2 linked regions of the Homo sapiens genome follow. The protein of the gene in region 1 purifies or fractionates together with the protein of each later gene. This does not show direct contact. Each region holds a gene or a part of one and is shown in the gene's direction. Other genes may lie near its edges.

What was found.
Region 2: the proteins of OR4X2 (region 1) and XAF1 purify together in Homo sapiens (affinity purification with mass spectrometry; one large-scale study listed by BioGRID and IntAct). This does not show direct contact.

Annotation. Positions count from the first base shown.
Region 1 is NC_000011.10:48,243,627-48,246,558, forward strand, and holds OR4X2 (olfactory receptor 4X2), read left to right. Parts: upstream 1-1,477; coding exon 1,478-2,389; downstream 2,390-2,932. UniProt on the Homo sapiens protein: Odorant receptor.
Region 2 is NC_000017.11:6,769,515-6,773,343, forward strand, and holds part of XAF1 (XIAP-associated factor 1), read left to right. Parts: intron 1-1,128; coding exon 1,129-1,470; coding exon of another isoform or gene 1,471-1,527; exon of another isoform or gene 1,528-2,835; intron 2,836-3,598; coding exon 3,599-3,655; 3' UTR 3,656-3,829. UniProt on the Homo sapiens protein: Seems to function as a negative regulator of members of the IAP (inhibitor of apoptosis protein) family. Inhibits anti-caspase activity of BIRC4. Induces cleavage and inactivation of BIRC4 independent of caspase activation.

The DNA of each region.
Region 1 (2,932 bases):
TCATGGAAGCAAGGAAGCCTTGTGGTGTGAGTGGAAGTGATCTGGCTCCCAGGCTCAGGTGGCCTGGAGTGTTACTGTAGGAGAGGCTATGTGGATATACAAAACCTTAGCCACCTTGGACAGAGTTCAGCATGGACTGGGACAGCCTGCCAATCAGTCCTGAGCAGTCTTGGTGATGCTCTGAGGTGTTGAAAGCCTGGGCTGTGGAGAAGGATGTGTCAGAGCATGAGGGGGCACTGGGATGTGTGTGTGTGTGTGTGTGTGTGTGTGTGTGTGTGTGTGTGTATGGGGGGTGTTGGACCTTTGTTGCCACTGGAGGATGTGACTGGAGAAAGTGAAAGCCCCAGTAAAGAGGAGAATCATACATGGATTAAGTTGAGCTGGGCCCTTGGAAGGGGACAAGCTCACCAAGTGACCAAGTGTAGAATGTGAGAATTAGAGGGAGAAGCAGAAATAAGAGGAGATGTTGATTGTCAAAGGAGGTCCACTAGGGATATCTCTTCTAAAGACTCTGAATGGTATGTGGAGAGGTTGAGGACACTGTTCTGCAAACCAAGGATAGAAAAGAAGGCCAGGAGCAGTGGCTCATGCCTATAATCACAGCACTTCGGGAGGCTGAAGTGGGTGGCTTGCTTGAGCTCAGGAGCTTTAGACCAGCCTGGGCAACATGGTGAAACCCTATCTCTACAAAAAATATAAAAATTAGCAGAGCATGGTGGCACATGCCTGTAGTCCTAGTTACTCAGGAGGCTGAGGTGGGAGGATCATTTGAGCTGGGGGAAGTCAAGGCTGCAGTGAGCCAAGATCACACCACTGCACTCCAGCCTGGGTGACAAAGTGAGCCCCTGTCTGAAAAAAAAAAAAAAAAAAAAAAAAAAAAAAAAAAAGGAGAAGGAAGTGGCATGAAGGAAAGCTGTAGGCACAAGATAATTTAAAACACTCATCTAACATGGAGACAGTAACACTATCCTGGCTGTTCCACATCATCCAATGAGGGACTTATTAACTTCCTAATAGAGCTCCTCCTCTAATCTGTTTCCACTGGACAGCCCTTTCCACACTTTAGTTCTACATACTACAGACTTTGTCTGATCCTGCAGACAATGGGGAATCATCAAGCATGTTCATCAACTAAAAGGAAAAACACTTTGGGACTGCTAGGGTCCTCAAAGGCCCTAACAGTCCTTCACAAATTGGTACTAATGTCTATCTACAGCTTTATTTTTTTGCTATTCTCCCCTTTATTCCAGCCACACACAAAGCATTTGTACTTGCTCTCTGCCTTCTTGGAATGCTCTTCCCTTCTACACATAACTAACTCCTACTCACCTTTCAATTTCCAACTCAGAAGCATCTCAGCTATGCAAGGGCTTTCATGTAATTCACCCACTGAGTGAAGAAGTATTTTGTATCATTTCAGATCACACCACCCAAATTGCTGCCTCTTGATGATGACCTCTTGGCTAACATACACAACATGACTGAATTCATTTTTCTGGTACTTTCTCCCAACCAGGAGGTGCAGAGGGTTTGCTTTGTGATATTTCTGTTCTTGTACACAGCAATTGTGCTGGGGAATTTCCTCATTGTGCTCACTGTCATGACCAGCAGAAGCCTTGGTTCCCCCATGTACTTCTTCCTCAGCTACCTCTCCTTCATGGAGATCTGCTACTCCTCCGCTACAGCCCCCAAACTCATCTCAGATCTGCTGGCTGAAAGGAAAGTCATATCTTGGTGGGGCTGCATGGCACAGCTTTTCTTCTTGCACTTCTTTGGTGGCACTGAGATTTTCCTGCTCACTGTGATGGCCTATGACCACTATGTGGCCATCTGCAAGCCCCTCAGCTACACCACCATCATGAACTGGCAGGTGTGTACTGTCCTTGTAGGAATAGCATGGGTGGGAGGCTTCATGCATTCCTTTGCACAAATCCTTCTCATCTTCCACCTGCTCTTCTGTGGCCCCAATGTGATCAATCACTATTTCTGTGACCTAGTTCCCCTTCTCAAACTTGCCTGCTCTGACACCTTCCTCATTGGTCTGCTGATTGTTGCCAATGGAGGCACCCTGTCTGTGATCAGTTTTGGGGTCCTCTTAGCATCCTATATGGTCATCTTGCTCCATCTGAGAACCTGGAGCTCTGAAGGGTGGTGCAAAGCCCTCTCCACCTGTGGGTCCCATTTCGCTGTGGTTATCTTGTTCTTTGGGCCCTGCGTCTTCAACTCTCTGAGGCCTTCTACCACTCTGCCCATAGACAAGATGGTGGCTGTGTTCTACACAGTGATAACCGCGATCCTGAACCCTGTCATCTACTCTCTGAGAAATGCTGAAATGAGGAAGGCCATGAAGAGGCTGTGGATTAGGACATTGAGACTAAATGAGAAATAGAGGCTGAGTCTTTGTATTGATACTTGGGTTTAGAATGACTGTTGAGTCCAAACTGAAGGAGCAGAATAGGTTGAAGGAAAGTTCACAGGACCTGTTAGTTGCAGATTATTCTACCTGGCCTCTCTCTTTAAAAAGTTCATTTTCATAACTTGAATAGTATTTCTTTTTGTGGAGGTACTAATTTTTTACCACCATAAATAACACTGTAGTTAATATTCTTGAATAGACATTTTTAACCATGCTTCTGACTTTCTTTTAGGCTTATTTCCTAGAGTGAATTTAGTGTTAGAGTATAAAGACTTTTGGTGCACAGTGTTACACTGAGTCACCTATCTTGTGAAAGTGCTCTTGACAGAATAGAATCCTGTCATTAAACACTTTTTTTTGGATAAGAAATGATTTTACATTGTTTCAAAGTATCTTTCCTTAGGACACCAAGGGGTATTAATTACAGAGAGAAAAATGTAACTTTATAGCCCTTCCCCTCTAAACCATTGCCCAAAGTGAGTATCACCAGAAATAAGATCCATTGATGCCATGTGC
Region 2 (3,829 bases), on another chromosome or scaffold:
TACAGTCTCTATCCTATAGTTGCATTACCTGAACTTCTTGGAGGCTAATCTGACTACTTTTGTGTCTGTGACTCTTACTCAAGGTGGATTGCTTCCTTGTGTGTTTGTAATTTTGGATTGTGAGTTTCTATCTGGTGGGACTCTACCTATGAGGATCCTCTATGACCTATTTTGAGGCTGTTGTCCCTCCAGAGGAATTTTGTGATTGCTTCTGCCAGACATCTCAATGTTTATGTTAATTCTTCTGCTCAGGGATTCCCAGACCATGAGGCCAAAGTAAATCCTAATCCCACACACAGGAATGGCATGGACCTGTGATTTTGAGTTTTCAGGGGCATAAGTTTTCATCTCCACACTCAAATACCGACCCAAGAAAGAAAAGCTTCCTTGCCACTTTCCTTTTCTCATTAGCTGATACTTTTCCTCTTACCCACCATAATTTATCCTTTAAAGTTTCCAGCTTTATGCAGGATCAATAGAGTCTTACTTCCAAATCCCCACCTGTGTGGATGGGACTTTCCTGTCATCCAAGCCCCTAGTTACAAAGTTGACCCTACATCTCCCATAAGCAGTGTCAACTCCTGTGCTTAACCAGTCCATTTGTGCTGCTATAACAGGATGCCACAGACAGAGTAATAATAAAGAACACAAATTTATTTCGAACAGTTCTGAAGACTGGGAAGTTCAAGATCAAGGCACCACCATTTGGTGTCTGGTGAGGGCCTTCTTGCTGCCTCCTAGCATGGTAGAAAGCAAAAGAGTAGAAGGCTGTAGCCAAATACTTCATGAATCCTCTTTTATAAGGACCCTAATCTCATTAAAAAGGGAGGACCTTTCATGATCTAATCACCCCCGAAGGCCCCACCTCTTAATACCATCACATTGGCAGCACCTGAATTTTGGAGGAGACACATTCAAACCATAGCAACCAGTCAGACCTTCATTCCTGGAATGCAAAATTTTCTTTCTTTCCTGCAAAGCCAGCTATTAAATTGAATGTCTGTCACATTTTATACACCATATAAAAGTGTTTACAGTGGGAATTTCTTGTGTTATCTAGTCTACTGTATTTTCTGACCATTAAAGCTGAAGTCATTTTAAAATTTGATATATTATTCACAATTGCAGGGTAAATGTTGTCCAGACTCAGAGTTTAAGAAACACTTTCCTGTTGGAAATCCAGAAATTCTTCCTTCATCTCTTCCAAGTCAAGCTGCTGAAAATCAAACTTCCACGATGGAGAAAGATGTTCGTCCAAAGACAAGAAGTATAAACAGATTTCCTCTTCATTCTGAAAGTTCATCAAAGAAAGCACCAAGAAGCAAAAACAAAACCTTGGATCCACTTTTGATGTCAGAGCCCAAGCCCAGGACCAGCTCCCCTAGAGGAGATAAAGCAGCCTATGACATTCTGAGGAGATGTTCTCAGTGTGGCATCCTGCTTCCCCTGCCGATCCTAAATCAACATCAGGTACTCAGCCTCTGTTCTCTGCTTACCTTTCTGGGAACCATCCGCACAGTGTCTTAAAAAAATCCAAGACCTGAAAGATGTTCACAAATGTTGTGGCTGAAAAGGCCGTTTTCTCTGACTCCCACTTCTCTGGGTGCCCAAATGCACTATCTCGTAGCACTTACCACCTGGTTTATTTGCATCACCTCCGAGAGACTGAGTCACCTTTGACTCAAGCCAGGTCTTTGAAGGTAGAGCCAGGTCCCTCTTCTCTGTGTCTCCAGCTTCTAGGCCAGGGATTGATTTGGAGCAACTGCTTCAAAACTGTTGAGTAAATGAATGAATCAGAGGATACCCAGTCTATCTCTCTCATGGTGTAGATATGGCACTGAGGCCCAGAGATGAGATGTCTTGGTCAAGATCCTAAGCCAGTTGGTGGTGGCTTACCTCCAGCAGATCAAGGTTTGCTTCAAGAAGATCAGGGTTTGTAGGCATCTCCCTGAATATCATGATTTTTATGTCCTAGGTTATTTTCTAGTAATAATAATAACTGGCATTAGAGGTTGTTAACCATTGTGTGCCAGTTACAATACAGAGCTCTTTATAATCTTCATCATAAACAATAGGCATGCATTTTATCTCCATTTTACAGATAAGGTGAAGTAGCTTTCCAAGGAGTATACAATTAGAAGGTGGCAGGATCCAGCCTGAGTCCACATGTATATAGCTCCAAAGTTTATGCTCTTAAGCTCCAGATTAAATGCCTTACTTAAAAAATTTATTTTTTTTCAAAATACATAAGTACTAGATTTTGTTGGAGCTAGTTGATATAATATCATATAAAGAAGTATAAAAGCAAAGCTAACCCTAATTCCCCAACCCCATACCCTGAGATACCACTTTGGACAGTCTTATGGGCATCTTTTCAAAGCTCTACCTTTGCATATACAAGCCTAAACAAGCATATACTGGGTTTTACTTGTTTCTTTTTCCACACATATTATCTTACTATACTTTTTACTCTGCCACATGCCTTTTTCACTTAGTATATGATGCATGCTTCTTACAAAAGACTTAGTATGCCAAAACCTTTTTTTCTAACTTCCTTGTGCATCTATGTATGCACATAAGCATATAATTTTACAAAAATGGGTTCATTTCATATTTGCTGGGGGTGTTACTAGTGCCATTTTTCCTTGCCTCCCACAATTTGGTATATTTCCTTTCACAGTTTTCTCCATCCTTATATAACAGAGTCGCCAGATTTAGCAAATAAAAATACAGGACATTCAGTCAAATTTGAATTTCAGAGAAACAAAGAATTGTTTTTAGTGTAGGTATATTCCATGCAATGATTGTTTTGCTAAAATTAAAATTTAACCAGGACACCCTGTATTTTATTTAGCAATTTCTTATATAACCACCATACAAACATACACATTTGGAGTCCTGTTATATACATTTTTTCACTTTTTTTTTTTTGAACCAGTAAAGCTGCCATCTTTTTTTTTTTTTTTTTTTTTTTGAGACAGAGTCTCGCTCTGTCACCCAGGCTGGAATGCAGTGGTGGGATCTCGGCTCACTGCGATCTCTGCCTCCCGGGTTCAAGCGATTCTCCTGCCTCAGCCTCCTGAGTAGCTGGGAGTACAGGCACCCGCCACCACACCCAGCTAATTTTTGCATTTTAGTACAGATGGGGTTTCACCATGTTGTCCATGCTGGTCTTGAAATCCTGACCTCAGGTGATCCACCCGCTTCAGACTCCCAAAGTGCTGGAATTATAGGGCATGAGCCACCACGCCCAGCAACATTTCTTTACATCCTAATGTAAATTCAGCAATACCCAAGGAAATCCCTACAAACAAAACAGTGTGGCTTATTTTTATTAATGGCTGCCTAAGATTCCATGGTGTGAGTGTTCTCCCATCTGTCCCTCCACCCAGTGATAGCAACAGGCCCCTGTTAAACTTTGTCGCAAGCCTCCTATACTTCTGGCTCAGTGGGCTCCTGACCTTTTCTATGCCATTACACTCCAGTCTTTGGGCAGGGCTCATGCTCTGTAACAAGGGACAGCAATATCCAGAGATATTCTAGGAGCTAGCACTTCTTACTTTAACCATATCAAACTTTTTTTATATCCATTTCTTAGGAGAAATGCCGGTGGTTAGCTTCATCAAAAGGAAAACAAGTGAGAAATTTCAGCTAGATTTGGAAAAGGAAAGGTACTACAAATTCAAAAGATTTCACTTTTAACACTGGCATTCCTGCCTACTTGCTGTGGTGGTCTTGTGAAAGGTGATGGGTTTTATTCGTTGGGCTTTAAAAGAAAAGGTTTGGCAGAACTAAAAACAAAACTCACGTATCATCTCAATAGATACAG